Homo sapiens: one gene and its partners. The protein of the gene in region 6 interacts with the protein of the main gene of each other region in a biochemical or structural test. Each region holds a gene or a part of one and is shown on either strand. Other genes may lie near its edges.

What was found.
Region 1: the proteins of ZMYND11 (region 6) and SETBP1 interact in a surface display test, tested with the Homo sapiens proteins (one large-scale study listed by IntAct).
Region 2: the proteins of ZMYND11 (region 6) and MLC1 interact in a surface display test, tested with the Homo sapiens proteins (one large-scale study listed by IntAct).
Region 3: the proteins of ZMYND11 (region 6) and SLC5A7 interact in a surface display test, tested with the Homo sapiens proteins (one large-scale study listed by IntAct).
Region 4: the proteins of ZMYND11 (region 6) and ABCC6 interact in a surface display test, tested with the Homo sapiens proteins (one large-scale study listed by IntAct).
Region 5: the proteins of ZMYND11 (region 6) and PPP1R35 interact in a surface display test, tested with the Homo sapiens proteins (one large-scale study listed by IntAct).
Region 7: the proteins of ZMYND11 (region 6) and PPRC1 interact in a surface display test, tested with the Homo sapiens proteins (one large-scale study listed by IntAct).

What each region holds. Positions count from the first base shown.
Region 1 is NC_000018.10:44,678,961-44,683,998, reverse strand, and holds the start of SETBP1 (SET-binding protein), read right to left. Parts: upstream 3,112-5,038; 5' UTR 2,978-3,111; intron 2,956-2,977; exon of another isoform or gene 2,638-2,955; intron 1-2,637.
Region 2 is NC_000022.11:50,064,440-50,068,426, forward strand, and holds part of MLC1 (membrane protein MLC1), read right to left. Parts: intron 1-3,987. UniProt on the Homo sapiens protein: Transmembrane protein mainly expressed in brain astrocytes that may play a role in transport across the blood-brain and brain-cerebrospinal fluid barriers. Regulates the response of astrocytes to hypo-osmosis by promoting calcium influx.
Region 3 is NC_000002.12:107,992,400-107,996,892, reverse strand, and holds part of SLC5A7 (high affinity choline transporter 1), read right to left. Parts: intron 3,937-4,493; exon of another isoform or gene 3,922-3,936; coding exon 3,766-3,921; intron 1-3,765. UniProt on the Homo sapiens protein: High-affinity Na(+)-coupled choline transmembrane symporter. Functions as an electrogenic, voltage-dependent transporter with variable charge/choline stoichiometry.
Region 4 is NC_000016.10:16,177,571-16,182,063, reverse strand, and holds part of ABCC6 (ATP-binding cassette sub-family C member 6), read left to right. Parts: intron 1-3,098; coding exon 3,099-3,266; intron 3,267-4,437; coding exon 4,438-4,493.
Region 5 is NC_000007.14:100,434,450-100,438,444, reverse strand, and holds PPP1R35 (protein phosphatase 1 regulatory subunit 35), read left to right. Parts: upstream 1-1,947; 5' UTR 1,948-2,070; coding exon 2,071-2,304; intron 2,305-2,380; coding exon 2,381-2,597; intron 2,598-2,677; coding exon 2,678-2,814; intron 2,815-2,911; coding exon 2,912-3,085; 3' UTR 3,086-3,163; downstream 3,164-3,995.
Region 6 is NC_000010.11:242,960-247,452, reverse strand, and holds part of ZMYND11 (zinc finger MYND domain-containing protein 11), read right to left. Parts: exon of another isoform or gene 1,432-4,493; intron 688-1,431; coding exon 480-687; intron 56-479; coding exon 1-55. UniProt on the Homo sapiens protein: Chromatin reader that specifically recognizes and binds histone H3.3 trimethylated at 'Lys-36' (H3.3K36me3) and regulates RNA polymerase II elongation. Does not bind other histone H3 subtypes (H3.1 or H3.2).
Region 7 is NC_000010.11:102,145,547-102,150,039, reverse strand, and holds part of PPRC1 (peroxisome proliferator-activated receptor gamma coactivator-related protein 1), read right to left. Parts: intron 3,369-4,493; coding exon 2,648-3,368; intron 1,669-2,647; coding exon 1,519-1,668; intron 1,413-1,518; coding exon 1,346-1,412; intron 1,224-1,345; coding exon 1,102-1,223; intron 863-1,101; coding exon 711-862; intron 115-710; coding exon 11-114; 3' UTR 1-10. UniProt on the Homo sapiens protein: Acts as a coactivator during transcriptional activation of nuclear genes related to mitochondrial biogenesis and cell growth. Involved in the transcription coactivation of CREB and NRF1 target genes.

The DNA of each region.
Region 1 (5,038 bases), on a different chromosome or scaffold from region 6:
CTCACATACACTGAGTCCCTGAACAAACTCAATAACACCATCCCATTTTTAAAGCACTGCAACTCCTCCTTACAATACTAATGTGTTCATAATAATTTGCCCCATTCTTCTGGCAGGAGCAAAACTGAAGCAACTTGAAATGCCATCAGCAAAAAGTTATTTATTTCCCATTCCTGAGCATCAGAGAAAACAGGGTTTCATTGGCTGGATCTGCCTTCAATAGCTTTCTGGTTTCAATTTAAACTTCAAGTCTCCAAGGAAAAAACTGGCATTCTGGGAGGTCCAGGCCCAGCCAAGTTTCAGTGTCTCCACAGGAACCCAGAAAGGATGCCCCATCCAGCTAGCTATTTCTCATCTGCTTCCTTTTGCATACTATATAGAAGCTTTGGAGCAGAGATTGAAGTACAACTAAAAATAATGACCACATTGAGAGAACTCTCCTCTCCTAGAGGTACACTTTTGTGCCAGACAAGTATCGATTCATCCCCTAGAGGAATTCAAAGTTAACAGGAGAAATGGAATCCAGGGGAAAGTACCTACCTATTTATTTCTTCTTCAGCAAAATCCTGCCTCCTGCCTCTCCCCACTCACCATTTTCAACTAAATCCTAAAACACTCCCAAGCACTGTTTCCTTTTTCCCCAACCCTCATTTAGGTCAGGTGATTTACAAAGTAGCTCACTCTGAGCAAGGCAAGTCCATGACCAGAAGCCCTTATGGCAGCAGGGGCTGTTGGGTTAACTTAAAGATACCTCTAGGTTCCCCTGTGTGATGTCCAAAACTGGGCCTTCCAGCAGAGCCTTCCTATGTAACATTCTGATGCTAACATACAAAAGATCAAATTACAGCCCTTCACTTGCCTAGCCCTTTCATGAACATATAAGGCAGTTGATATTTTCTCCCAAGCTAGAAGTGGCCCCCTTCTTAACCGACACTACTGCCTCTCAGACACTCCACCTTATGTTCACTGCAAGCCATCCCCTCCCCCACCTCCAGTTTGTTTATTCCAGAGATACATCTATTTTCCCAGCTAAGAGAGACGAGTCCCTTTCCCTCCTCTGGCTCCCGGTGGTGCATTCGCTCACCACCTCCTCCCCCAGCTCAGCTCAGGTTACTATAGTGGCTAGCAACTCCCACAGCCCAGGTCTAACACCAACTCAACTTCCCAAGACCAATAGTTTGTTTTGGTTTTGGTTTTGTCCCCTTAACGGGGGAGGAGAAATCGTGTGCCAAGCAACACTCTGGGTACCTGGTCTCCATATCTTTGGGGGCTACATTCCCTGCCGTTTGCAAATACTCTGTTTAACCACACTTGATTTCTTCCTCCTCTTCCGACTTTCCCCCAAACACTCTGTCTTAATACCCTTTTCTGGGAACAGGCAATGAGACTAAGCACAGGGGAAAACACAGCACCTCACCTTCACTCTGACACCTGGGAATCCCTCGTCAGAGCAAAAGAGCTCACGCCTCCCTCAGGGAGTTTAAGGATGGTAGAAGCCAGAGAAATCAGAAAAAAAGGGAGGGAGTGACCTGGGATGGTAAACTAGCTACATCTTAAAGTGCTACAAACTTTCTCCTCCCTCACACGCCCCTGTCTGGTTGGCTCCGCCTTCCCATCCCAGCTGGGGTGTGCAAAGGAAACTCTCCCCGGAATGCCCAGGTCTGGTCCAGTGTTGAAGATGTGGCCTGCACACAACACCGCCCTTCCTCTCCAAATACCTCTTCTCTACCCCATCCCCTTTCTCCCACGACACACACATGCTTTGCACGTGAAGATGAGTTTGGATGGGGCACAGGAGATATACCTATTTACTAAAGGAGGGTAAGAGATGGTGCCAAATCGGCAGATAGTTTTGGTGACAGTACAGAGACTTCAAGAAATTAGTTTTTAGTATAAATCTACAGAAAAAGAAGAAAAACAGGATGAAGAGTGAAGGAATGAAAAGAAAAAGAAGGAAAAAGATGTAAGAGAAAAACAATCAACGCCAGTGGACTCCAACTAAACTTTAAGGGGAAAGGTGTGGATAGTTGGCAGGAGGTGGGGGGAGTGTAGGGGCTGGAAGGGAAAGGTATCTGCTGTAGAATTCCAGAATAAACTGCCCTTTTGGAGGAGAGTTTCTGCAGGGATAAAGAGACACACAAATTGCCCTTTTAGCGTTAGATGTCAACCGTGAGATTATCAGGACAGTTTATTTGAAACGGAAACGAATCGGAAATCCTTCCCACAACAGTCCTTTTAGACAGATACACACCCTGAGAATCCAACACAGACACACATAAAGAATAAATGCAGCATTAGGGGGCAATAAGAACTCCCCTTCCACACTCTCAATACCTCTAGCCTCATCTATTTCCAATTGCACAACTTTCAATCTCCAATGAAAATATTTCCAGTTGGATCCGATTTCAGACTTGTAGTAAGCGGTCTGGATGGGGGGGCGGGGGGAATAGGTGCTGTACTGTGCAGGGGAGGGGGGCTGGAAGACAGTATTTCGGCAGTTAACTTATTTTTTTAGAACCAGCATGCTCTACCGATCAGAAATTGCTATTACCCAACAATGCTTCCATCACAAACAGACACTGAAAACAGCATCCCCGTTATCACCATCTTGCCAAAGATCTGCCCGGTCCAGTTTACCTGACTTTGTCCCTGCGGAACTTCTCAGACAGTATTTCGGTCAAAGAGATAATGGTTTGGAAGACAAAAACAATAAATCGATACCGAAGGGTTCCCTTTCCGGAGTGATTTCCCACTGGAAACCACCGAACGGGGAAGCCTGCCGTTCATTCCCAAGCCCACGGCTCCTCTAGAAACGCACACAATGCGTGCTTTCAAAAAGGCATTCGTCTGCTTTTAAGGGAATTCCTATCTTTTCAGAGTCCCAAAACCAGAGAGCACAAGAAAGAGACTCAAATCCATTGATTAAGATTTTTAAGAAAAAGACTAACACACAGGCACAACACAAGCACACACCAACCTTCGCCGGCTGGACCACTTCTTGCCTGTTCTTCTTTCTATTAACGACACGTTAGATTCTGATACATTCCCCCCCCAAAAAAATCCAACTAGGTTACAATGTAGCTCTCTAGCTCCACTTAACCTGCAAGTTACAAAGAGAGAAAAAAAAAATCCTGCCTTCCCACCCCTTTCCTTACCCCCTCCCCCTCCCGAGTCCACTCCACCAACGCCAAACCCGCCAGCCCCGCCAGCCGGCTGCAGGACCGAGGGAGGGTGCAAAAGGCGGGGGGCGGAGGGGGGGTAGATCAGATTAGGCGAAACTCAATAAGCTCCCAGCCCTCCAGCCCAAAGCTTCCACCATCGCCGCCACCAACGAGCCACTCCAATTGAGCCAGCATCGCCGCCCACCCGCCGGCCCGCCGGAATCGCGCCCATCTCCTGCAACCTCGCCCGGACCGGCATCCCGCCCCCTCGGCCCGGTCTCCCCCTTCCCGCCGGGTGCAAAGTCAAAGACCCAGCAAGGCGACGTGAACTTTTGCATGCAGGGCACACACGTCGCCCCCGGTTCCGGGAGTGCGGGGGCCCGCGGCGCGGAGGGAGGCTGGGCGCCCGGGCTCCCGGGCCAAGGTCGCCGCGCGTGCTCACCCATGTCCCGGCGGCTCCGGCTCCGCTGGCCCCGGCGCTCGCTCAGATCCCGGCTCCCGTCGCTCGCCCGAGCCCCCAAAGGTGCTGCTGCGGCAACTCCATGGCGATGAGCATCTGTCAAACGGCGAGCCGCGAGCTGGCCGCCCTAGCTCGGGGGGCGCCGGGGCCCCCGGGCGCGCGGAGGCGGCGGCGAGCGGCGGGCGCCCCGGCCGGCCCCGCGCTTCCCGCCCGACTCTGCCGCCTCCGCCGCGCCACCGATTTATGGAGAGAGATATCAAGGGGGAAAATGGCGTCTCCGGAGCCCGAGGAGTCCTGGAGTAATCACATTCACACACACACGCCCGCACGCACACACACTCGCACACACTGGCACACAGGCGCGCGGCGAGCCCTGCTAATTTTAGCAGGAGCCAAAAAAAATTTTATATATATATATATATATATATATATATATATATCCCCGTCTCTCCGATCAATGCTTTTTCTTTTTTTGCTTTTTTTTTTTTTTTTTTTTTTTTTTTTGCTTTTCTTCAAAGGATGGGTTGGAGCGTTAAAAAATGTTGGTGGGTTTGGGCTCGCAGGAGGCGGCGCGCGGAGGGCGAGGGCGCTTTTGCTGAGCTGTGCAGTTCGGTCCGCTGAGCCCGGCGGCCCTGCCCGCCCGCTCGTCCGCCCGCGGTCGCTAGTGTTGCCGCCGCCGCCGCCGCCGCCGCCGCTGCTGCTCCATGGCCGCGCCCGCCCCGCGCCCCCGCCGCGTCCCGTCGCCGCCCGCCCGCGTCCCCGGTGAGCGCTGGAGTGGGGTCGGGCCCGTGTGCCTGCCTCCCGCGCCCTCTCCGAATCCCGGACTCCTAGTGAAAGGAAGGGGGAGGGCGCGGGCGCGGAAGGGAGGTGGATCGGAGCGGCAGCGCGGCCCAGCCGAACGGGTACCGACCGTCACCCCGCGATCTTCCTCGCAGGGGGCGCCGGCGCCCAAGCTGCTCGCCCGGAGGGCCCAGAGCCGCTTCCCAGACCAGAGCCGGGGGAGGCGCAGCCAGTAGCGAGCCCTGAGCGACCTCTCTCCCCACTCGCCCCCCTGCCCCAGTGAATTTCTGTCAGTTGAAGGGAGCGGGGCTCTTGCCCGGGGAAAAGGAAAACAGTTCGTGGCCTGGGATCTGGGACCCCTTGCCGCCCCCAGCGCCCCTCCCGCTCCCCGGCGCCCTTGCGGCCCAGTGGCTCCTGCGCGCCGGAGTCCGCCGCGAAGACTGAGCGGCCGCGGGGATCGCCGCGGGCTCCGCGCGTATTCCTGGGCTCAACACTGCCACTATCTGACACAACAGGAGCAGTGTCGGGGGGGTACTGCGCGCCCAGACGTGAGCTGTGATAGGCTCTCGAAACTGGGCGCATTTTTTTTTTAACCTGGTAATTATATTTCACTTTCAGGGTTTTTTTAAATTATTAT
Region 2 (3,987 bases), on a different chromosome or scaffold from region 6:
GAGCCACTGCCAGGCCCCGTGGACAGTGCTGGCTGCTAGTGGTCAAGTCGCTCCACCCCTCCTGCTCCAACACGCGCAAGGCTCAGTCCCAGAGCCAGAGAGAATGTCCGCGGGAGGCAGAAGCGCTGACCGTTCCGTGTCAGCAGGATCCTGAGCGGAGGAGACAGGGGGCAGCCGTCCTGGGGGGATGGGGTGCACAGACCCCCAACAGCTTCACCCCTGAGCACCAGCTGCTAGGAAGGAAGGGGCAGGAGGCAGCGCGGTGAGCTCGGCAGGGAAGAGGATGGAGGGAGCGGCCGAGGATGCAGGGGGCCAGAGAGTGACCACGGAGCACCCAAAACCCTCTGTGCCCATGGATAGCTTTCCCGTGTTGGCTCAAGAAAAACAAAGCAACTAAATGTTAACACACAAAAGAGCCAAACATCTATCCAATGTCACTGCTACAAAAAGTAAGAGAAGAAACAGAACGAACAGCTCTTCTCAAGTTAACATAAAACTTTTTTTTGCGACAGTCTCCCTCTGTCACCCAGGCTGGCGTGCAGTGGCGCGATCTCGGCTCGCTGCAACCTCTACATCCCAGGTTCAAGCGATTCTCCTGCCTCAACCTCGCCAGTAGCTGGGATTACAGGTACCCGCCACCACGCCCAGCTAATTTTCGTAGTTTTAGTAGAGACGGGGTTTCACCATGTTAGCCAGGCTGGTCTCCTAACCTCAGGTGATCTGCCTGCTTCGGCCTCCCAAACTGCTGGGATTACAGGCATGTGCCACTACGCCCGGCCTGGATTTTAAGTAATTATTAGAAAGTCTGGTACTTGTGTTCCCAGCTGGAGTTTACCCTGGAGGATGGTAAAGGCATGGGCCCCATGTGGTCTTTGCTCTTCGGTTGTTGAGACACCATTTATTGCAAAGCCTATGCTTTCCTCAGTCTCAAAAAAAAAAAATCCAGAGCCATTAAAGAAAATATTAATCAACTTAACTATTTAAAAAAATAGCTTTCACATAACAAAAATCACAACAAGCAGAACAAGAAATAGCCGCCAGGCTGAGACCACCATTTGTATCCTCCATCACAGATGGAGCTGGTCTCCCCCGGCACCAGGGTTAGCGGAAAATGGTCAGGAGACATGAGCAGAGTCCACTGAAAAAGCAATGCAGACGTCCTCATGCTTTGTAAGAGGTCCTCGTCCTCACCCACATTGAGACGGAGGTGCTCCCACCCGTGTCACCGAACTCCAGCGTGACACCCTCTGTGGGGGGCTGTGGAGAAGTGAGCACCTTCACGCCATTGGCAGGAGGGAAGGTGGACGGCCCCCATTGAGGAGGTCGCCGAGATTTATCAGCATGACAGCTGCACCTACCCTCTACCCAGCAGTCTCTCTCCTAGCTGGATATCCTAAAGATGCGCTGAGGATTCAAAAGGAAGATGCGTGCAGGTTGTTCACGGAGGAGTTATTTATAGTAGCAGACGGTTGGAAATAACTCAGTTTCCATCACTAGGGACTGGCTGGGTTGACCGGGCAGTCAGGAGCGATGAAGGAATTCAGAAGAGCTCTGATCCCCTTGGGTATCGAGAAAACACCAGGATAAATTATTAAGTTTAAAAAAACAAGCAAGGGGCTGGGCACGGTGGCAGAAGCCTCCTCATCCCAGCACTTTGGGAGGCCAAGGTGGGCGGATCGCTTGAGCCCAGGAGCTCATGACCAGCTCAGGCGACAGAGTGAGACCCTGTCTCTGAAAAATAAAATAAGTAAATACATAATTAAAAAGCGAGGTACATGGCTGGGCACAGTGGCTCACGTCTGTAATCCCAGCACTTCGGGAGGCCAAGGTGGGCGGATCGCTTCAGCCCAGGAGCTCATGACCAGCCCGGGCAACAGAGTGAGACCCTGTCTCTGAAAAATAAAATAAATAAATACATAACTAAAAAGCGAGGTATATGGCTGGGCACGGTGGCTCACGTCTGTAATCCTAGCACTTTGGGAGGCCGAGACAGGCAGATCACTTAAGGTCAGGAGTTCAAGACCAGCCTGGCCAACATAGTGAAACCCTGTCTCTGCTAAAAGTACAAAAATTAGCCGGGTGTGTTGGCATATGCCTGTAATCCCAGATGCTCCGGAGGCTGAGGCAGGAGAATCACTTGAACCCAGGAGGCAGAGGTTGCAGTGAGCCAAGACTGTGCCACTGCACTCCAGCCTGGGAGACAGAGTGAGACTCTATCTTAAAAAAAAAAAAATGGCAAGGTACAGAATAGTGATTCTAGTATACAAGCTATTTTGTAAGAAAGAAAAAAAAATTATCATCTGGTTGCCCATAAGAGGAGCAGGTCAGTCAGGCATGAGACCACAGCTTTTCTGAGCTCGTCTTTTATAGTTTGGCTTTTGAACCACATAAATATTTTATATATTCAAAAAATACCATTTTAAAAAGAAAAAAAGCACCAAGCCCTAAAATGGAATACAACCAGAGGCCATTAAACTTAATGGGGTATCGAACCCAGAGGATAACCCCACACAGAAAGGGGCCGACTTCGATGGCGTGTGGCCGTCCCCTGCTAGCAGAATGCATGCTGAAGATAAAAGGGAAGCCTCAGGCTCACTCAGGAGATGGCCCCTGGGTGGTAATATTGTCTCTTGTAATCGTGAACAATTATATGCATATTGTAAGACAACATGAAGTAGGAGATATATTAAATGTCACAGGAAACAAAATAATTGGAGTAGGAGTGGGTGAAGCAAACACAAGAGAAGTGAAGAAAAAACCCTGGGCCGGGTGTTGTAGCTCACTCCTGTAATCCCAGCACCTGTGGGAGGCCGAGGACGCTATCCCCCTTCAGACAGTGACTCCATGCCCCCATCAGACAGTGACTCCATCCCCCATCAGACAGTGACTCCATTACCCCATTAGACAGTGACTCCATCCCCCGTCAGACAGTGACTCCATCCCCCGTCAGACAGTGACTCCATCCCCCGTCAGGCAGTGACTCTATCCCCTGTCAGGCAGTGACTCCATCCCCCGTCAGGCAGTGACTCCATCCCCCCATCAGGCAGTGACTCTATCCCCTGTCAGGCAGTGACTCCATCCCCCTGTCAGGCAGTGACTCCATCCCCCCATCAGGCAGTGACTCCATCCCCCCGTCAGGCAGTGACTCCATCCCCCGTCAGGCAGTGACTCCATCCCCCATCAGTGACTCCATCCCCCATCAGACAGTGACTCCATCCCCCATCAGACAGTGACTCCATCCCCCATCAGGCAGTGACCCCATCCTCCATCAGACAGTGACTCCATCCATCCATCAGACAGTGACTCCATCCATCCATCAGACAGTGACTCCATCCCCCATCAGACAGTGACTCCATCCCCCATCAGACAGTGACTCCATCCCCCATCAGACAGTGACTCCATCCCCCCATCAGGCAGTGACTCCATTCCCCATCAGCACACGCATGTTGACCTGGAGCAAACAGCTTAATACAGGTCTTCTAATGATTTGGGTGCAAAACCACTTATACTGGAAAAAAAAAAACAAAAAAACAAAAAAACACTAGGTATCTAAGAAATACATCTAGCTACACGTGCCTGAGCCTCAGAAGTCGTGTTGGAGATAAGCTCCTACTGGGTCAGCTCAAAGTAACAGGACTTTGAATTCTCCTTAAATTCACCTGTTAAACTCAATGCAGTTCTGATGCAAATCCGAAAAGCATGTCTCATAAACCCAGGACAGATTCTAAAATGGGCTCAGGGACAGAGTGGGTCCCAGGTCCCTGTGAAGCAGGTGGTGGCCCCAGATACAGGGCGGAATCGAGGCCCCGAGGCCCTGGGGCCAGGCTGGCATTGGGGAGCACGGTCACCGCTGCCCAGGAACAGCGGAGGAGGTGCCTCCTGGAGCTGTCCCTGGAGCCAGCGCCCCCAGAGTCCCAGGCAAAGCCAGCAAGGGCCAGGCCAACACGCAGAGCACCACATGTCTGGGGGGCTCTGAAATAAAATACA
Region 3 (4,493 bases), on a different chromosome or scaffold from region 6:
TTGGTAGAACATACCAGTCCTGCTCCTAGGATACCAGTATACTGAAGAGCCTAAGATTTGAATATCATATTTTTAAGTAATTTTCATCATCAACATTTTAAACTTCTCTTAGAAATCAAATTTATGTTTCTCTTTATAACATTGTTTATTGTGTTTGTTGGTCCCTATATTTCCACTGAACATATTGAGGTATGACCAGTTTGGGCCGCTGTGGTTCTTGGACTGACAGTTCATAATTCACTTGTTGCTTTAGTAGCCTTTTCCCTATTGTTCTCAAAACTATACAGTTTACATGTCACATTATTAAATGCATACATGTAATGGATCTGTGATTTTATGTATCATCAGTTGCAGCCAGCTGAGTTGTCTTACACCCTACCCCCATTCCTCAATTGGCATGCTAGTAGTATATGCAACCCACTGGAGATGAAACTACATTATCTCAATATAAGATGTGTTGATCCAAAATATCAGTAAGAAATATTTTTCAGTGTTTTGCTATGGTGATAAAATAGAATTATTTTCCAGAGTAAAGATCCCTTGAAAAGAAAAATCTAGTAAGAAGTTGGAGAATGAAGACAAGGATGAGAGATAATTATAGATGAGTGACTTCAGATAACTGACTGAGTTATTGTTTTATAGATATTTGAAAAGTTATTTTTTCCTGAGATCATTTACTTCGAATCGAAACTTTACTTCCAACACTTTGTCGTTCTTTTTTTTTGTGTGTAGTTCTCCACTTTAATAACGCTTCTAAGCTATATACCATGAATTATGAAAAGTTCAATTATAAAATAAAGATTAGCTGACTAAAATCTCAAAGATTTGGGGTCCTAGTAGATGCTGTCACTTAACTGTAACTCAGAGATATTAGAGACGTCAATCACTTCTCCATTATCACTATTAAAATTGAGATAAAATTTTCTCTAAAATATTTTCTGAAAAATTAAATCAATTGTAAGTAAAACAAAGTGATACTTTGAGGTATACCAGGAAATATTAGTCTACTCATGAAGCTATAAAATAAGTATCCTGCAAAGTTATGAAAATCCACTGAACTTGAGCTGTTAGAAGTGTAAATACACATTTCTTCAAAATGTTGTAGGATGTCAATTTCTACCAAGAAGATAGTTTAAGATTCTCCTATGTTTCAATGGTGAACTATACACATTCACAGAAAGGTGGTAATAGATCTTATATATTCTTGAATATATCAAATTATTTGTAATAAACACTAAATTTTAATTAAATCCAACTATTACTTTTTATTTGTGTAAATTTAAAGATTACAGGTGCAATGATGTTACCTGGGTATACTGCATAGTGGTGAAGTTTAGACTTTCAGTGCTTTCATTACCCAAATAATGTACATAGTACCCAGTAAGTAACTTCACACACACACACACACACACACACACACACTCTCTCTCTCTCTCTCTCTCTCTCTCCCAAAGAGTTCAAGCAATAGCAGCAATGTTTTTATATATGTTGTTTGATATATGTGAGTGTTTAGAAAGATACAGACAATAACATATTTTACATATGTAGTCATGGATTAGGTAATAATGTTACCATCAATGATGAACCACAAATACATAAATTCTCATAAAATCATAATGAAGCTGAAAAAGTCCTATTGCTTAGTGACATTATAGCTATTGTATTACAATTGCCTATAGTATTCAGTGCAGTAACATGTTGCACAGGTTTGTAGCCTAAGAGCAATAGACTATACTGTATAGCCTGTGTGTGTAGTAGGCGCTACCAACTCGGTTTGTGTAAGTACACTCTATGTTCACACAACATCAAAATTGCCTGCTGATGCATCTCTCAGAATGCATCTACATCCTTAAGCTGACTGTATATTGTAATACAGGCACAAACACAGACACACATATATACAAAACTAATTATAACAAAGTTCACAGTTTCGTTACTATATTTTATATTTCCAAAATACTTTAGAAGCATTTGCTTATTAATTCTATTCTTTCTTCAGGGCTCTGTTATATAAGTTGATCTTTACTCAATGAGTGAACATTTTGTATTTTGTTATATACTCAGCCCACTCCTTTTTTGATACCTCAGCAGGTAATTTGTTCTTAAAATTAACATTTTTTGGTGTTCAAAGCAATGGCAAACAAGCGCCCAATGCAACTCAGCTAATGAGAGTCAGGTGGAAAGGGAGGTGTAGTTTTACACATAATATCATTAGAACATAAGAGCAGCAGTGGATGTGGAGTATTATTATCCAGCACCAGAGAAGTGCAGCATTTTCCACCTAGTTGTTTCTTTTTTTTTCTTTTTGAGACAGAGTCTCACTCTGTCGCCCAGGCTGGAGTGCAGTGGCGTGATCTCAGCTCACTGTAAGCTCTGCCTCCCGGGTTCACGCCATTCTCCTGCCTCAGCTTCCTGAGTAGCTGCTGGGACTACAGGCGCCCGCCACCACGCCTGGCTAATTTTTTGTATTTTTAGTAGAGATGGGGTTTCACTATGTTGGCCAGGATGGTCTCGATCTCATGACCTCGTGATCCGCCCTCCTTGGCCTCCCAAAGTGCTGGGATTACAGGCGTGAGCCACCGCGCCCGGCCCCCCACCTAGTTCTTGCTGTATTTTATAACGATCAAATACTCTTGTTTCGGCAACAGTCACTCTTTTTTATAGTTGGCAATCAAAAAAATCCTGACTAACCTGCGGGATGAAATTGGATGTGCTGAAGGCGGGGCAGTGCACACCTTTATGGGGAGCTTCCATCTCCCAGCTGCCTCAACAGCCTCAGTCAGGTCCAACAGTCTCAACTGGTCCCATGTGGTACACATCTAAGCCTGTGTCTCTAAGGGTAGATTGGAGTCGAGGAGACGCTAAGGCATGGGCAAGCTTTCTCATGTAAGTTATTGAGAAGACATTTAAACTGAAGGGGAAATTCTTGTTATATTCTACCATACTTAAATTTTTCCACTACTAAACCGTAACATTGAACTTTATAATATCAATTTATGGAAATATTTCAAGTTTGTAGTTTTGCTGTGTGACTTACATTACTTACCTATTCTGTCAGCAGAGGGTTGGTGATATCTCACTTCTTTAGGAATGTTATTTACTGCTGGAACTGACTCTGTTTTATATATGTTTTTAATTAAACATTTTATTTAAAAAGTCAACATCTCTGAAAATATCAGTGCTTTTAGAATAACATGCAACACTGTTGTCTCAGGAGTTTAGGTAGTTTTATATCTGTGTTTATGCCAATTAACATGGCAGTTATTAGAGGGAAAACAATGGGAGGTAAAAAGTTCTCAGTTTGCAGGAAGAACACTTATTGGAAGAAATTAAGATATAAATCATTTATTTAAATTTATTCAACACCAAAAATATGTATTAGTATTCTCACTAACCCCTGGTTCATGAATCCTTGTTTTAAACATTTATGTTAAGTAAACTGCACTTTTTAGCTATGCTTAATTCATTATTCTTTGTTCAAAATCATATATGACTCATAAAAGCAAATTGATCATTATAATTCATAGTTATTGGTCTAATGAGGCAATTCAAGTATGGAAAGTGTAGCTGAGGTTTTATTTAACCTCTGCCACCATATTGCAAGTAAACGTAGAATTTCCATTAAGCTTTTATGCATATAAATATGGTTCAGCATATGGTTTTAATAAAAATGTCCTCAGAAGCCAAGGCTGAGGAAAGTAAGGTTGTGTATCTGATGTTTAGTTAACTACAAAGATGCAGCTAGACAACTTAGCTGGTCCTTACCCAAAGCAGAGAAAATTGCTGCAGCCCAGAACATTTCTCCCATCAGTGCAGGAATAAACAGGAGTCCGCCCATGCGTTTTCCATAGATTTGCTGAAACGGGTCTAACATGGTCACATACCCCTTTGAACGCATAGGTTTTGCAAAGAACAGGCCACCTAAAAATTAAGCAACTGTTTAGGAGAAAATAAAAAGAATGTAATATAATAGTCTTTTACTATGCTGCCATTTATCAAGGAAAATGCATTTTCCAGAACACCTGTATGGATTGAGGAACAAGTCTGCACACAGTACCAACCTACTATAAATATTAGGTTTAGCAATCTAATATAATTTATTTAGTACACTTACCATTGTATGTGTCCAAAGGATAAGTGGATCATGTTGAGGTATGTGAATTGAAAAACATGAACCAGCACATTGCTCACTTAAATGCCTCAATGCATTTCTATCTCTCAACATAGCATTTAGAGGTTTTGAATAAGCACAGATTCAATAAAAGCCTTTTGAGTGCCCCAAAAATGAGGTACCTTCTGTTATATAATACTTTTGACCTCTTATTCATTTGACTTGCTAAAAGAAACACAGGTACATTTCAAGTTGATTCATTTTTAATGATATATCCATACTTGTTTTGAAAGAAATAAAACATGATTATGTTAAGAAATTCACTGTGCTGACAGCCACAGGTCCAGAGGATTTTAAATATATTCCTAACCAAGAGATCAAA
Region 4 (4,493 bases), on a different chromosome or scaffold from region 6:
GGGTCTGGACAGAGATGTCCAAGAAACAGGATATATGCATCTGGAGCTATGGATTGGGCAGGGGTTGGCAAACTGTGACCCCAAGCCAAATCCAGCCCACCACTTGTGGTTTTGTTTTTTGTTTTGTTTTGGAGACAGAGTCTTGCTCTGTTGCACAGGCTGGCATGCAGTGATGCAATCTCGGCTCACTGCAACCTCCGCCTCCCACGTTCAAGCAATTCTCACACCTCAGCCTCCTGAGTAGCTGGAATTACAGGCACATGCCACCATACCTGGCTAATTTTTATATTTTTAGTAGAGACAGGGTTTCACCATGTTGGCCAGGCTGGTCTCAAACTCCGGACCTCAGGTGATCTCCCCATTTACCTCAGAGACAAAGCCCAAGTCATGACAATCCCTGGCAAGGTCCCTGTGACCTGGCTCTGGTATCCATTAGCCCCATCTCCCATCATCACCTCTCAGCTTTACTGCAGCCACCTTAGTCTCTGTGATATTCCCTGATCCCCCACAGCACACTCTGGCCCCAGGGCCTTTGCACTGCTGTTCCCTCTGCTGGAAAGCTCTCCCCAGGAGTCCCCAGGGCTCATCCCTCACTTCTATCACCTTCACAGAGAGGCCTTTCCTGACCACCTTATCTACCACCACAGCCACCCTACTATTGTTAGTGCACCCTACACCTGCACCTGCTTTTTCTCTTTTTTTTTTTTTTTTTTTTTTTTCTGAGACGGAGTCTCGCTCTGTTGCCCAGGCTGGAGTGCAGTGGCACAATCTTGGCTCACTGTAACCTCCACCTCCTGAGTTCAAGCATTCCTCCCACCTCAGCCTCATGAGTAGTTCAAGCAATCCTCCCACCTCAGCCTCATGAGTAGCTAGAATTACAGCCATGTACCACCACAACTGGCTAATTTTTTTTTGTACTTTTAGTAGAGATGGGGTTTCACCATGTTGGCCAGGCTGGTCTTGAACTTCTGACCTCAAGTGATCCACCCAGCTCCGCCTCCCAAAGTGCTGGGATTACAGGCGTGAGCCCCTGAACCTGGCTCCCCCTGCTTTACTATTTATTCTTCATAGCACTTTCCACCTGATGTGCTGTCTGCCTTACTTGTTTATGGATTGCCTGTCTCTGTCCCCTTCATGAGAATGATGGATCCATTAAGAGAGCAGCAACTTTGTTTTGCTCATTGCTGTTTCTCCAGAGCCTAGAACCATGCCTGGTTTATGATAACGAGGCAGTGGTTATTAGTGGAATGACTGAATGTAAGAATGAATGAATGGCTGGGTACGGTGGCTCATGCCTGTAATCCCAGCACTTTGGGAAGCCAAGGCGGGAGGGTTGCTTGAGGTCAGGAGTTTGAGACCAGCCTGGCCAACATGGTGAAGCCCCATCTCTACTAAAAATACAAAAATTAGCCAGGCATGGTGGCGTACCTGTAATCCCAGCTACTTGGGAGGCTGAGGCAGGAGAATCGCTTGAACCCAGTAGGCAGAGGTTGCAGTGAGCCGAGATCAAGCCATTGCACTCCAGCCTGGGTGTCAGAGTGGAACTCCATCTCAAAAATAAATAAAAATAAGTTTTAAAAGAATGAATGAAAGACAAGAAGGCCTAGATAGAAGGAATAAGTTAAAGTAATCAATAGTGCACAAGGGAAATTATAGTTAATGATCATTTACTTGTATATTTCAAGATAGCTAGAAGAGAAGGATGGTTGTGTTCGCAATACAAAAGATAAATATTTGAGGTGATGACTATCTCAGTTACCCTGATTTGATCATTACATATTGTCTACAGCAGGGGTCCCCAACCCCCGGGCCATGGATCAGCACCAGTCTGTGGCCTGTTAGGAACTGGGCAGGCAGCACAGCAGGAGGTGGGCAGAGGGCAGGCGAGTGAGGTTTCATCTGTATTTACAGCCATTCCTTATTGTTCCCATCACCGCCTGAGCTCCACCTCCTGTCAGATCAGTGGCAGCATTAGATTCTCATAGGAGCACAAACCCTACTGTAAACTGCACATGTGAGGGATCTTATGAGAATCTAATGCCTGATGATCTGTCACTGCCTCCCATCATCCCCAGAAGGGACTATCTAGTTTCAGGAAAACAAGCTCAGGGCTCCCACTGATACTGCATGATGGTGAGTCATTATATATTACAATGCAATAATAATACAAGTAGGCCGGGCGCAGTGGCTCACGCCTGTAATCCCAGCACTTTGGGAGGCCAAGGTGGGCGGATCACCTGAGGGCAGGAGTTCGAGACCAGCCTGGCCACCATGGTGAAACCCCATCTCTACTAAAAATACAGAAACTAGCCAGGCGTGGTAGTGGGTGCCTGTAATTCCAGCTACTCAGGAGGCTGAGGCAGGAGAATTGCTTGAACCCAGGAGGCAGAGGTTGCAGTGAGTCAAGATCATGCCATTGCACTCCCAGCCTGGGTGACAAGAGCAAAACTCCATCTCAATAATAACAACGACAACAGCAGTAATAATAATAATAGAAGTGCACAATCAACGTAATGTGCTTGAATCGTCCTGAAACCATCCCCCGGGCCATCCCCCTGCCCCCAGGTCCATGGAAAAATCGTCTTCTACAAAACTGGTCCCTGGTGCCAAAAAGGCTGGGGACCACTGCCCTACAGGTATCCAAATACCACTTGTGCCCCTCGAATAGTTACAACTATTACATATCAATGAAAACTAAAAGAAAACAATTAAAATTTAAAATACAAAAGTAGGACTGAAAAGCTGCCACTGGATGAGGGAATAGGGAAATGGATGGTGGTCTCAGTGGAGAAAGGGAAACAAGAGTTGGACTCAAAGAGATAGAGAGAGTGAGCAGGAGGAGACAGAGTGGATTGGGAAGTGTAGGTAACTCCTCCAGGAAGCGTGCTTGGGAAGTGGAGAAGTGAGGTCGGGTAAGGATGGAGGCATTGTTGGCTTGAGAGCGAGTGCCTTGGAAGCTGGGCCTGTCCCCAGGGAATAGGCATGTTGAGCTGTACCTCACCCTGATGGGCAGGTGTGCCCTGACCTGCCACAGCCTGGGCACCCCAGTTTCACCCTGTAGATGCTGACTCAGGCCACTGTTCCTTTTGTGGCCACAGGGCATGAATCTCTCCGGAGGCCAGAAGCAGCGGCTGAGCCTGGCCCGGGCTGTATACAGAAAGGCAGCTGTGTACCTGCTGGATGACCCCCTGGCGGCCCTGGATGCCCACGTTGGCCAGCATGTCTTCAACCAGGTCATTGGGCCTGGTGGACTACTCCAGGGAACAGTAAGTTTGGGAACATGTGTCAGACAGTACAGGGCAAAGGCAGAGGAAGCACTTAGCATCCAGTCCTAACCCAAGTTTATCTCACCTCCCCCTTCCACTTGAGTCCAATTTCCTCTTTGTATTGGTCAGCTTTTGCTGTGACAATGCTATGTAACAAACAACCCCCAGATCCCAGCAGCTTACAACAGCAGGTGTTTCTTCCTTATGGATCTGTGATTTAACTACTACAGCTTTGCCTTGGATGATTGGCCAGGGTCAGATGTACTCCTTGTCTTCTTGTTTTGAGACACAGGCTAAGGGAGTCCCCTCTGTTTCTCTATTTGGATATGCTGTTTACAAGAAAGGCGGCAGGAGCACAAGAAGGGGAGCTGTCCCCACTCTGAGTCCAGGGACAATACCCCCACCCCAACCCCCAGCTCAGGAGGCTGGCCAAGCACATGTGTGTAACTTTTTTCTTTTTCTTTTTTTTTTGAGATGGAGTCTCGCTCTGTCTTTCAGTCTGGAGGGCAGTGGTGCGATCTCCGCTCACTGGAAGCTCCGGCTCCCGGGTTCACGCCATTCTCCTGCCTCAGCCTCCCGAGTAGCTGGGACTACAGGTGCCCGCCACCACGCCCAGCTAATTTTTTGTATTTTTAGTAGAGAAAGGGTTTCACCATGTTGGCCAGGCTGGTCTCGAACTCCTGACCTCAGGTGATCCATCTGCCTCGGCCTCCCAAAGTGCTGGGATTACAGGCATGAGCCACTGCGCTCGGCCGTACATTTTTTTTTTCTTTCTTTCTCTCTCTCTCTCTTTCCTTCCTTCCTTTGTTTCTTTTCTTTTCTTCTTTCTTTTCTTCTCTTTCTTTCTTTCCTTTCTTGACAGAGTCTTGCTCTGTCACCCAGGATGGAGTGCTGTGGTCCAATCTCGCCTCACTGCAAGCTCCACCTCCCAGGTTTAAGTGATTCTCTTGCCTTAGCCTCCAAAGTAGCTGAGACTACAGGTGTGCGCCACCTCACCTAGCTAATTTTTGTATTTTTAGTAGAGATGGGGCTTAGCCGTGTCAGCCAGGCTGGTCTCGAACTTCTGGCCTCAAGTGATCCACATGCTTTGGCTTCCCAAAGTGTTGGGATTACAGGCATGAGCCACTGCACCCGGCCACATGTGTGTAACTTCTACCCCTTCCCTGCCCAGACACGGATTCTCGTGACGCACGCACTCCACATCCTGCCCCAGGCTGATTGGATCAT
Region 5 (3,995 bases), on a different chromosome or scaffold from region 6:
TTAAAATCCTTTTTGTAAAATTTGGGCTGTGCTATCCATTCTATCTGATGTTCCACAGCACTTCCTGGAAAGATAAAATGAACAATGTGGAAACTCATAATGAAAAGTGGTACACAAACGTGCCTGTTGACTGAGCATCAATCAATTCCAGGAAAGCTTCAAGATTCCTGAACCTTTTTGAAGCAGTTTGGAGAATTAAAAAAAAAAAAAAAAAAAGAGTAAGAAAGGATTCCTGAACCCACTTCCACTTACATTCTACACAAAAAATGAAAGGAGACTTGCAGAATTGAGGGGACCTGCCCCAAGTAACCTAAGGAGCAGGTGGGAGCTCTCATTTCCTTTTCTGCAGTTCAGGGGTCTTCTGCTATGTGGAAAAGCTCAGGGCCCAGGATAAGTCCACTGACATTAAAAATTAAAAAAACTGAATTCAAGGCTGGGTGCAGTGGCTACTGCCTGTAATCATAGCACTTTGGGAGGCCAAGGCAGCTGAACCACTTGAGGTCAGGAGTTCGAGGCCAACACGGTGAAACCCTGTCTCTACTAAAAATACAAAAAAAATTAGCCGGGTGTGGTGGTAGGCGCCTGTAATCCCACCTACTTGGGAGGCTAAGGTGGGAGAATTGCTTGAACACTGGAGGCAGACGTTGCAGTGAGCTGAGATTGTGCCACAGTCTCCAGCCTGGGCACCAGAGCGAGACTCCGTCTCAAAAAACAAAATAAAACATTGAACCCACAATACAGAGTTTTTTGTTTGTTTCTGAGACAGGGTCTTGCTCTGTCGCCCAGGCTAGAGCGCAGTGGTATGATCAGAGCTCATTGCAGCCTGGAACTCCTGGACTCAAGTGATCCTCCCGCCTCAGCCTTCCCAGTAGCTGGGACTACAGGTGAGCACCACCACCACGCCCGGCTAAAATTAAATTCTTTTGGTAGAGATTGGGAATGGTGGTGTGGAGTCTCGGTATGTTGCCCATGCTTGTCTCCAGCTCAGGGTTTCAAGACATCTTCCCGCCTTGGCCTCCCAGAGTTGGAATTGCAGGTATGCGCTACCGCACCCGTGCCAGATATCTACTTTTTATACAAATTAATATTTCAGGGAACTCTCGAAGGTAAAAGTAGTCACAAAAAGCTGCAAGAGTTGCTGTGTCCCAGAAGGGAGTCCGGGATGGGGTCGGCGACCCTCGCCCGCACTCATACAGGCCAACTCCGGTCCGAGTTTGGAGGCAACGGAACACCGGAAATGCTGTGCAGGTCTGAGTGGGAGGTCAGGGCACACTGGACCGTTACCTTAAAGCTGCCCCATTTATGGCCAGGTGCGGTGGCTCATGCCTGTAATCCCAGCACTTTGGGAGGCCGAGGTGGGCGGATCACGAGGTCAGGAGTTCGAGACCAGCCTGACCAACATGGTGAAACCGTCTCTACTAAAAATACAAAAATTAGCCGGGCGTGATGGCGCGCGCCTGTAATCCCAGCTACTCAGGAGGCTGAGGCAGGAGAATCTCTTGAACCTGGGAGGCGGAGGTTGCAGTGAGCCGAAATCGCGCCCCTGCACTCCAGCCTGGGCTACAGAGAGAGGCTCAGTCTCAAAAAAAAAAAAAAATGCTGCCCCATTTGGCGCCCCAGAATGAGGACTGACACACTGGGCAATGGGCATCGCAGCGCTAGCAGGACTAAGATTCCTCTGGGTAACTCAGCCATAGCAGAGTTTTCAAGAGGAGGAGTGGCCCTGATGAGGACCCGTAGGGCTTCAACCGACCCCAGCTCAAAAACACTTCGGCTTGGGGGCGGTGCCAAGGCTGTGAGTGCTTCCAACACTTCGGCTTGGGGGCGGTGCCAAGGCTGTGAGTGCGGAAGCCTGCCGGAAACCTGGGGACGGAGCGAGGGAAATGACGCCTGGGAGCGACAACAGGGTGGGTGGGGCTGCTGACTCCGCCCCCGAAGGAAAGGGTTAACGGTTTCCGGTAGCGGCGTCTAGGAGGGGCGGGGGAAAGGAGGCGGCAGCCAGGCTGTGTCCCCTGACCGTTGGAGCGTCTGCGACCCCCGCATCCCCGCACCCTCAAGGCACCTCCAAAGATGATGATGGGTTGTGGGGAGTCAGAGCTGAAGTCGGCGGACGGGGAAGAAGCCGCGGCGGTCCCGGGGCCACCCCCGGAGCCCCAAGTCCCGCAACTCCGAGCCCCAGTGCCCGAGCCCGGCCTGGACTTGAGCCTGAGCCCGCGGCCCGACAGCCCTCAGCCGCGGCACGGCAGCCCCGGGCGGCGGAAGGGGCGGGCGGAGCGGCGGGGCGCGGCTCGGCAGCGGCGGCAGGTGAGCGGGGGAGGCTGGCCCCCGGCCCGCGACGGCCTCGCGCCCACCTGGTCACTGCCCTGCCCTCTGCTCCCAGGTCCGCTTCCGCCTGACGCCGCCCTCCCCGGTGCGGTCCGAGCCGCAGCCTGCGGTGCCGCAGGAGCTGGAGATGCCCGTGCTGAAGAGCAGCCTGGCCTTGGGCCTGGAGCTGCGGGCCGCAGCCGGGAGCCACTTTGATGCTGCGAAGGCCGTGGAGGAACAGCTGAGAAAGTCGTTCCAGATCCGCTGCGGCCTGGAGGAGAGCGTGTCCGAGGGTGAGGGGGGCGGGCGGCCGGCCGCGTGCGGGAGTCGGGGTGAGGCGCGCCACTCACCTCCGTCCCCGCTGCGCTCTCAGGGCTGAACGTGCCGCGCTCCAAGCGGCTCTTCCGGGACCTGGTGAGCCTGCAGGTGCCGGAGGAACAGGTTCTGAATGCCGCGCTCAGGGAGAAATTGGCTCTCCTGCCGCCACAGGCTCGAGCCCCGCACCCAAAGGTGATGGGGTCTGGGCGTGGGGCTTCCTCCATGTACCCCCTTACCCGGATCCTTCCTCCCAAAGTGTAACCTTGCTTTGGGCCCAACCTCCCAACAGGAGCCACCTGGGCCTGGGCCAGACATGACCATCTTGTGTGACCCAGAAACGCTATTTTATGAATCTCCACACCTGACCCTGGACGGTCTGCCCCCTCTCCGACTTCAACTCCGGCCCCGCCCTTCAGAGGACACCTTCCTCATGCACCGGACACTGAGGCGATGGGAAGCGTAGACCCCAAAGATCCCTGGAGGGCTAGTTCGTATTTTTGTGTTAAACTATTTGTTAGAATAAAGTAATTTTGCTAATAAATGGGACTCTTCTTGGAGGCCTAAAATGGGGTTAAAAGCTCTCTAGGGGGTTATCCACTTAGCCTCAGGTTGGAAGCTGCCTGGAAGTCGGGTTTGGGGGCCTTTTTGGAACTTGGTAGAGTCATGGCAAGTGGAAAACACTGTCCACGTTAGAGGTTTACTTAGATACCCCTCCGTTCACAACCTTACCTGCCTCTCCCTGACTTCAGCCACAGCTACTGCCTGTTTTTGATCAGGTAGCGATTGTTCTCTGCATCACTTATTCTGATCTCTCAAAATGCAGAGCCCAGCCTATCACACTTCACGAAAACCTTCCATGATTACCTGTCTCAAGGAGCTTGCAAGCCAGCTGTCTGCACTGAGTTACTGAAATTATCTCCTTGCTTTTTACCTTTAAGAGCCTTGCCCATCCTGTTTACACCTGACCTGAATACTCAGTATGTTCGAAGTTCCAGTAACACCTAACAAGCCCCCGAAGAGCTTCATGTTGTTAATTGCCTGTAAGTCTGATTCCACAGCACAAAAAAGGTGCTGGCCCGTCCCTGGGCATTTGATCCAAAGCACTTTTGCCTACCTCCACCGTCAACTCTTTCCAAGTTAGCCTTCTGGCCAGGTGCAGTGGCTCGCGCCTGTAATCCCAGCACTTTAGAAGGCCGAGGCGGGTGGATCACCTGAGGTCAGGAGTTTGAAACCAGCCTGGCCAACATGGCGAAACCCCCGTGTCTACTAAAAATACAAAAAATTAGCTGGGCATGGTGGCGCGTGCCTGTAATCCCAGCTACTTGGGAGGGTGAGGCAGGAGAATCACTTGAACCTGGGAGGCGGATATTGCG
Region 6 (4,493 bases):
CCACACTTTGATTACGTCGTCCTTTCTTTGCTCTTGGTTCTTGAGTGACCTTTAGCTGTGGGCATTATAAAAGTAATATATTATTCCAGACACTAGAAAATACTTCTCTGCTGAAAACACTCATAGTGGACCCACAGGTGAGAAGTGAATACATTTCTACCTTTTGCATCCTTCCATCCACTCAGTTACCACTGACTTAATTTACTGTTCTGGTAACTGTAGGCTTGAAAGAGCCAGCGCACCTTCAGAGAGGAGCACTTGTACTTAACTCTCTTGGTACTGGCAGGGTCAAGGTCATTGATTGTTACATCTATGTATTCATTTGAACTGCTTTTGGTTTAGTTTTGCAGAGCACTTTACAAATGTAAAAAAGGGAAGGAGAACGTCAAAATCTGTTCATTACAGTGAGGAGTGTGCACTAAGATTTCTGCATTTAAAAGTAATAATGAATAGGCACTTCCTTCCGGAGACACACTCACCTGCTCATTACTGGTGGAGGAGATACTGGATTCTGCCTCTTCCTCACCTCGGTCCTCATTCTTAGATTTCCAAAATCTCCCTTCTCGTAGGAAACGCTGATGCAGCTCCAGCTCATCACAGGCCTTTTTCCAACCCATACTGCGCTTCACGTGCAGCCGATGAATGTTGACTGTGATATCTTGAATGTTTTCAGAAGGAATCCAGGCCCTAGGAAAAACACATAAAGGTATAGTTAGAAACATCCCAAATGGCAGGAAGGGTGGTAAAAGAGGGCTTCAGTGGACCCTGCCTGCCATAAAGTGCGACCTGTGGCAGTTCTCGTCTGTTAGCTTGGTGCAAAAGCAATTGTGGGTTCTGCCGTTACTTTTAATTGCGAAAACCACAATCACTTAGGCTTCGTCATGGCTTGAATAAATAAACTGTTACCAAGCGGAAAATAAATGAGATTTGTTTTGTCTTTCACAGTCGACAAAAGTTCTCAGAACTGGATTCACAAATGCCTCCCAATTGTTCACAATTCAATCAGCTTAGCTTGTCCTAGTTCATATCTGTATTCTTCATAAGTCCTTTTAAAGTTATTTGTTGTTCTGAATACTGTAAACTAATATAACCCATCTAGCTATTTGCCGTTAGCACTAAAGAATCACTTGAAAATGCCCAAAAATTTTCATAAGATACATACATATATTCATATAAAATGGGAAGATCTAAAAATATTATCCAGTAAGTCATATTTGTATCATGCCTCTACTCATTAGAGAAACCAGATGAACACACAGAGCCACTGATTATTTAGCCACAGTGTACTTAGCTGTGAACATAAGTGCGATACATATCTAAAACTAGAGCAGGACAACTACATTTGCTTCTGTTGGAAAGAACACTTTTTCCTGGGCATTGGTCTCTTTCTCGGCTTAAATTTGTATCCATCCCAAATGTTGTGTTCAACAGATGTTTACTGTGTACCAGGGGAAGGCACTAAGAAGAATGGAAAAGTGAATGGGGTCTACGTGATCTTGAGTTTCATTGCCTCATTTGACAGCGGCAAGAGATGCTGCCCACAGGTGTTAAGGTAAACTATTAGTGGTTGGAATCTCTCGGGTCTTCTGATTATTAGGATGGCACTTCCTACACTGCCTCTGCCTTTGAGGGACTTACAATTTTGTCAGAAAGAACTAAGGAATAATTATAATGCAATGCAGCAGGTGGTAAAGGTACTCTAGGGTGCTATGGAAAGGAACAGTTAACATTTGGTTGTGAGTGGTCAGAACATTTTATTCGGCCTTGGTCTTGGAAGATAAGATTTAGACAGCAGACAATGTGAGTGGAGAGATTCCAGGCAGAGGGAACATCACAAATGAGGTAGGAAACTGTATGGATGCATGAGTAACAGACATTTTCTACGGTAGAGTACAAGTTGCGATATGGTACTATAAACACACGTATTTATGCTTTTCAGTTTTCTGTTAAAGATTTTTTCCTGCTATAAGTATATATGATATCACAGTTTTCATCCCTGGCCTGTAATTATAGCGCTCCAGAAATCCTGGGCCTATGACTGTTGGAAGGAATCTCTTAGGGAATCATGGCCACATGTGCCTCAGCCATAAATAACCATTTCCACTTCCTTGTACAAGCCAAGCTTTATAATCTAGAAGCACACTTTAAATATACAATAATCTATATCATTAGATGCTAACAACAGCTAAAATTGTTAGAGTTGAACTTCCATAACATTATTTATGAATATATTGTTAATATTATATCAACTATGTCTCATCTGGCATAAGTACTTTGTTAAAAACCATATCAAAGTAAACTGAACTTTGAAAAACTAAACTCTAATGCAGAGTACACATGAAATCATGCTTGTGGAATAGTTTCTTGCCATTAGATTTTGAATATATTTACTCTTCCAATCAACAGATATTTACTGATTTCCTATTATGTAGTAGGAATTCAATAAAAGTGGTTTGTTCACTTTTTCAAAGTAGTTTGCTTTTGAGAGAGAATTCTGTTACAAGCAGTGCTGACTACCTGGAATGAACTTGTATCTGTAAGAGTATTTTCCTTATTTATCTTAAATAAAGTGGATTCACATCTGTTCTTTAAATGTACTTCTATTCTCCTTTAATCAACTCCAGTACTGTAGATAATTTTTTAAACTGAAATCTGATTATCACGGGGTATGCTCTCTGATCTACAAAAAATAAAAAAGCAAACACCCGCAATTTAAGGTAAGTCTAATAACAAGAGGAATAGTCTAATCTGGCTCTATGTCTGCCAATGCTCTAACTACATTTGCAGAATAAAATGGTTCTGTGATCTGATGTCAGTGAGCCCGAAGTGCTCTACCTCTTTTTTGTCTGTACCTGGTTTCCTGGCCTGGGCCATGCCATCCACCAGCCACTCTCGCAGCAGAAAGATCTAGCCTCCTTAAGACAGGTCTTATCAGCTACTTTTCTTTGGCAGGCGAAATCTTGCAAATCCTACAAAAAGCTCACTAAAGCAGCTCTCACATGTAAACACAATCATACTCGACTCTTTTGCTGGAGATTTACAACGTGCTCATTGTCTCCGACGAGCAGCATATTCTATTTGCGTGTCTAGGAGGGAATGGTACAAAACCATTCATTTTTTTTCCTCCCATTTACATGTAATGATATGATGGACTAGCAGAAGAATAATTAGCCAAAACTTGCAACCAGTGGCTCCTGATCAACCAGAACCTTTTGAGCATAAGTTGCTTAAATAATTAAAAATTCATGATTATAATTGTATCAAATTTTTTAAAATAAACATTCTAATATGGAAGACTATAAAGTATATCCTAACCAGTCCTTCACTTCAAATTGTTCACATTGTATCCAGGAAAAAGGAAAATGATTTTACACAGTGAGTTTGTCAACCTCTCTTATTTTCTAAAATAAAGTCCTCAAGAGTCCCATCTGTCTAGAACTATTTACATAAAATCTTCCAGGACCTAAGAAGCTTGACGGAAAAAAAATACCTCTGAAAATGTAATCTGATGTTTCCTAATTCTCTCTTCAGGTGACAGACTACTCTAGGACTGCTGCAGATTAGCACCATTATTATTATTATTTTTTTGAGACGGAGTCTCACTGTGTCGCCCAGGCTGGAGTGAAGTGGCACAGTCTCTGCTCACTGCAAGCTCTACCTCCCGGGTTCACGCCATTCTCCTGCCTCAGCCTCCCAAGTAGGTGGGACTACAGGCACACACCACCACGCATGGCTAATTTTTCATATTTTTAGTAGAGACGGGGTTTCACTGTGTTATCCAGGATGGTCTCGATCTCCTGACCTCATGATCCAGCCGCCTCGGCCTCCCAAAGTGCAGGGATTACAGGCGTGAGCCACCGTGCCTGGCCTAACCCAAATATTCTTTAAAAATATTTTCTGCATAGTATACTGAATGACATCTAACAAGTTAACTCATTATTAATATCACTCATGGTTGAAGACAGTATAAAGCTACTTGCAAGTTGATGAAAAAGAAAAATATATAGATAAAAAGTTCTAATTATCAGATTATTCTTACCTATTAGTATGGCTATAAAAATAACTGAATTCTTGTTTTTTCTAAGTTAACTGTGTTTTATTTAATGTGAAAAACATTGAAGCAAACTTTCCCCCGTTATTCCTTGAATATCTGTTGTATTATAAAAGCTGACATTTATTGAGTACTCACTATGTGCTAGGTACTATGCTCAGGTCTCTCTGTAGCAACATTTCTTTAAACCTTACAAAAACTCTTATGAGGCCTTTATTTTGCTAAGGCTCAGAGAAACTGACTAATGTATCAAGATTAGGGTAGAAGACAGTGAAGCAAGAACACAATCTCACATAAAGACTTACCCTAACCTACCAAAAATACATTATTTCCTTGCCTATTCTGATAAGAAACTGAAACCATCCGAGTATGATGTATTAAGCATATGTTAAAAATTACCACTTAATGTAATTAAAACATTCATTTTGTATTGAGTTATTTT
Region 7 (4,493 bases), about 100 Mb from region 6:
GGGCCCAAGGTTACCTCCTGAGGTTCTTCTGGGCCTGTTTCAACAATGTGTCAAAGTCAAGAGAATCAAATTTGCTCTTTACAGGTGCTGGGTCAAAGTCTTCCCGGTTGGAGTCTATAAAGGTAAAGACAAACTTCAAGGTCTCTGACCACACTTCCCAACCACAGGGTCTGCAAATGGCTAGCTATCTCCCATCCCAAAAACGGATGGAGTGAAAACTGCTCTAATTTTAAGTCAAAGAGATAGGAGAGTCCCCAGTCCCCATTTCTCCTCTCGTCCCACCCCTTGGGTCTTTTTTTTTTTTTTTTTTGAGACAGTCTCGTTCTGTAGCCCAGGCTGGAGTGCAGTGTTGTGATGTCAGCTCACTGCAACCTCCGCCTCCTGGGTTCAAGCAATTCTCCTGCCTCAGCTTCCCGAGTAGCTGGGATTACAGGTGCGTGCCACCACCTCTAGCTAATTTTTTCTATTTTTGGTAGAGATGGGGTTTCATCATGTTGGCCAGGCTGGTCTCGAACTCCTGACCTCGTGATTTGCCTGCCTCAGCCTCCCAAAGTGCTGGGATTACAGGCGTGAGCCACCATGCCCAGCCCCCTTGGGTTCTTTGTATGTCAAACTAAGGTAAGTCTGCCTAGCCCCACTCACAAAGGGTTAGGAACCCTTCTGGGGAGGGGATGAAGCATTCCAAAGCTTTAGGCCCTCCCTCCACTCACCAAGATCAGAATAGCTCCTCTTGCAGAACTGCCTTCGGCCCCCAAAGCAGAGATCAAAGGGCTGCTCATCTGCCTGCCGCAGCTTGTGGCCACTCTCAATGGCTGCAAATGCCTCCTCAGCATAGCGATAAGTGACGAAGCCGTAGTTGTCCCTAGTAGGAGGAGAGTGAGGCAGGGGCTGGAGTGGCTATATGGGCCCATGCCATAGAGGAGACACAGCATCCCAAGGTACAGAGGTGGTTCTTCTCATTCCCAGTGGCCAACCCTCTGACTGCAGAAATGAAGGTGCCCCATATTGCTCAGCACACCAGAGCAAGGAGGCAAGACAAAGAAACACCAAGGTAGATGAATGGGATAGAAAGAACATCCTGAGCCTGGGGCCCAAGCTTACCCTTGGACACGGAAGTGGATGGTGCACTCCTCAATCTCTCCAAAAACGGAGAACCTCTGTTTCAGCTCTGATCGAGTCATGCGGCCAGGTATCTTTCCAATGAAGACCACCCTTCTTTCTTCCTATGTTTGGAAATGAAAAAAAATCAACACACCATTAGCCAGGGCTACAGCTGCAGGCAGCTCTCTGAGCTCAAGGCTCAGGGGGTAAGCCCCATCCTCCCATGATCTGTTCCTCTACTCACTATTGCACGCTCCTTTTGTAGCACTCTTTGCCTTTGGTAATGGTCATGTGAACGATAAGAGCTGTACCTGACAAAAGAGGGTGTCATCAGCCCCCCAAACATAAGACAATTCAAGACTCAACTCTTAGGCACCTGCATCCCAGGTGCATGGCGCTCCCTGAACACATGCTCACCGCCGCCTCCTGTCACTTCTCCGGCGGGGGGATGGGGATCGTGAGCGGCTTCGAGAACTGGATGATGAGGATGAGGAAGACGAAGAGGAAGATGATGACGAAGAAGAGGAAGAGCATCTTCGAGAACGTCCAGAGGAACTACAGCTGGACCTGAAGGATAAGAGGGCATGCAGGAATGCTGGGAGTGGTTCAGGTATACTCTGCTTATCTCACCCAGGCCCCAGTCCTGCCTTTCTTTTAGGAAGCTCAGGACCAAAGACAAAGCAGAGTAGAAGAGGTCTAGAAGAACAATTTTCATTCAGAGATGAACAAACTGAGGCCCTTCATGGAACTTTAGGTGTACCTGGAATGTTGTGAAGTGTTTTGGAAGAGATCACATTTTCAATTGTGCACTTAAAAATTGAAAAATATTTAACAAATCAGAAAGAGGAAGAACAATAAATGGAGACTCAGGGAGAGGGGTGAGCCCTAGGTCTCACACCCAGCTATCTGTGGTGCTGGGGCCAAGCCTGGGTCTTTTGGGTTACTATTGCTCCCCTACCAGGTCTCACTGAAATACTGTGACCATGAGAGAGGTTAACTGCTAGACTTGTAGTATGGGCCAGTTCTGAAGACATATATCATCTCCAAAACCCAAGAATTCTTCATTAAGTGGGAAAACTTGGTTACTGAGAAAAAAAGATACTGCCAGGAAATAGATGAGGCCATAGTGACACCCAAAGGAACTGCCCCAGACACCTTCCTCAGCAGATGATTAAGGGAAGAACTATTTTCTATTAACAAGTAACCCACTACCTCACATAGCGCCCAGAATACCAAAAATGAAGGCTGATACAGTATGTGAAAAAAATCAACATGGTCAAAATCAAACCCTAAAAGTCTCCCCAAGGCAGGTCTCAAAGAAGCAGGAGACCTGACACCCCAAGCTCCAACAGGGGACAGAAGCAATTGTCTCACAGCTTGCCTCCTTCAACAATCCAGGAAAAGGGAAAACACAAAAGCCAAAGTCAGAAATAGAAGCCTTAGCGCCTGAAAGTACCAAAGTCAACGGGTAAAAGCTTTCAAAGTAAACCACAGAAGTACGTGAACTTCCTAAATGGAGAGGACCTACAGGGCCATCAAAGCTCACCTTCGCCACCTCTTGTGTGGGGGGGAGAGGGACCTGGACCGAGATCGGGATGAGGAAGACGATGATGAGGATGAGGAAGATGCTTCGCTAGTCCGGTTGGACCCAGAGCTGACAGAACGGCTGTTGCGGCCTCGGCGGCCCTGCCAGCCCTGGCTTGAGGGGCTGGCTGACCTGCAGGCTTTTCGGTAACAGCGCATTGACCGCTGCTTGGCTGAGGGTTCAGGGGGAGTCCTAGTGTTCATGTCATTCCGGCAGGGTGAGGCCTCAGGGGACAGCAAGCTGGATGGGGCAAGGCAGGGTGCTGAGGGATCTGCCTGCTCACTGCTAGTCCTGTGATCAAGCGGCTCCCGGGAGGCAGCTATGCATGGGGGCGGAGGGGCAGCTGGGCCCAAGGACAAGACAGGTTTGATGGTGATGTCCTGATGGCGCTTGACATTCCATCGGGAGCCCACCTCTGGAATGACTAGGGCAGGCATCTTTTTTGGGGGGGTCCTGCTCCGGACACAATAGTCATGGTCCCCAGAGCCCACATGGACTCGACTAGGGCCATGGACCCCTTCTTGGAGGCGAACTGCAGCTGGATGTTTGGCCTCCGTAACTCCTTCAGGCTTCAGGGTTCCCTCCTGGGCGGTGGACTTAGGAGATTTGGCTTTGGCCAGCAGTGAGACAGCAGCCAGGGGCTTCCATAACTGGTGGGGAGGGGTAGCTGGAGGGGTGAGCCCTGTGGTGGGGAGGGAGGATGGAGATAGCAGGATGAGATCCGATTCTACGCTTCCAAATACCGTGTATATAGCCTCCAGAGACCCCCACCTCATCTCACAAAGTACACCAAGCAAGGTAAGCAGCCCAACTTTTCCCACTGCTTCAACTGCCCCTTCCCCATGTTCCCCAACTTGGGGACCAGCAAGAGAAATCCAGCCAGCTAGGGTCTTCCTGAAGCCCTCATCCTCTCACTACCCAAACCTAGTAGCCAGGTCCTAGAGTCTAAGCTCTCCATTCTCAGATCCGCCCCTTCCCCCGAGTACTGCCTGACTTCTAGGCTGCATCTTTCCTGCACTCATGCAGTCATCATCTATCGTCTCCCCACTTGCAGCTTCAGAGTCCACCTGTCTTCTACATTCCTGCTAGATGGAGCACCCAAAAACCAATCTGGCAAAGTTTCTTCAATGCACAGGATAAAGTCCAAAGAGCTTAATATGGCATTCGAGGTCCCAATAATCTGACCTTCTATTTACCACTCCAGTTTTATCTCTCGCTTTACCTCTGCCCACTGCCCTGATCAGCTACTACACTCCAGCCAAACCAAGCCTCTCACAATTCCCCAAAACATACCCAGTTGGTTTTGTTTCTTCAGTTCATTCAAGATGCTCTGTCTTCCTAGAATGCCCTGTTCCCTAAATCTACCACCTGATAGAGTTTCTCAAGCCTCAGCTTAGGGGATTAGTTTCTATATAACCCTTCCCTGACTGTCCCTCTTCACATCTCACTGTAATCCATGGTTGTTTTTTTTTGTTGTTTGTTTTTTTTAAAGACAGAGTCTTGCCCTGTCGCCTAGGCTGGAGGGCAGTGGCGCAATCTCAGCTCACTGCAAGCTCAACCTCCTGGGTTCACGCTATTCTCCTGCCTCAGCCTCCCAAGTAGCTGGGACTACAGGCACCCGCCATCACGCCCGGCTAATTTTTTTGTATTTTTAGTAGAGATGGGGTTTCACCATGTTAGCCAGGATGGTCTCGATCTCCTGACCTCGTGATCCACCTGCCTCGGCCTCCCCAAGTGCTGGGATTACAGGCGTGGGCCACCGCGCCCGACATTTTTTTTTTTTTTTAGATAGTCTTGCTCTGTCCCC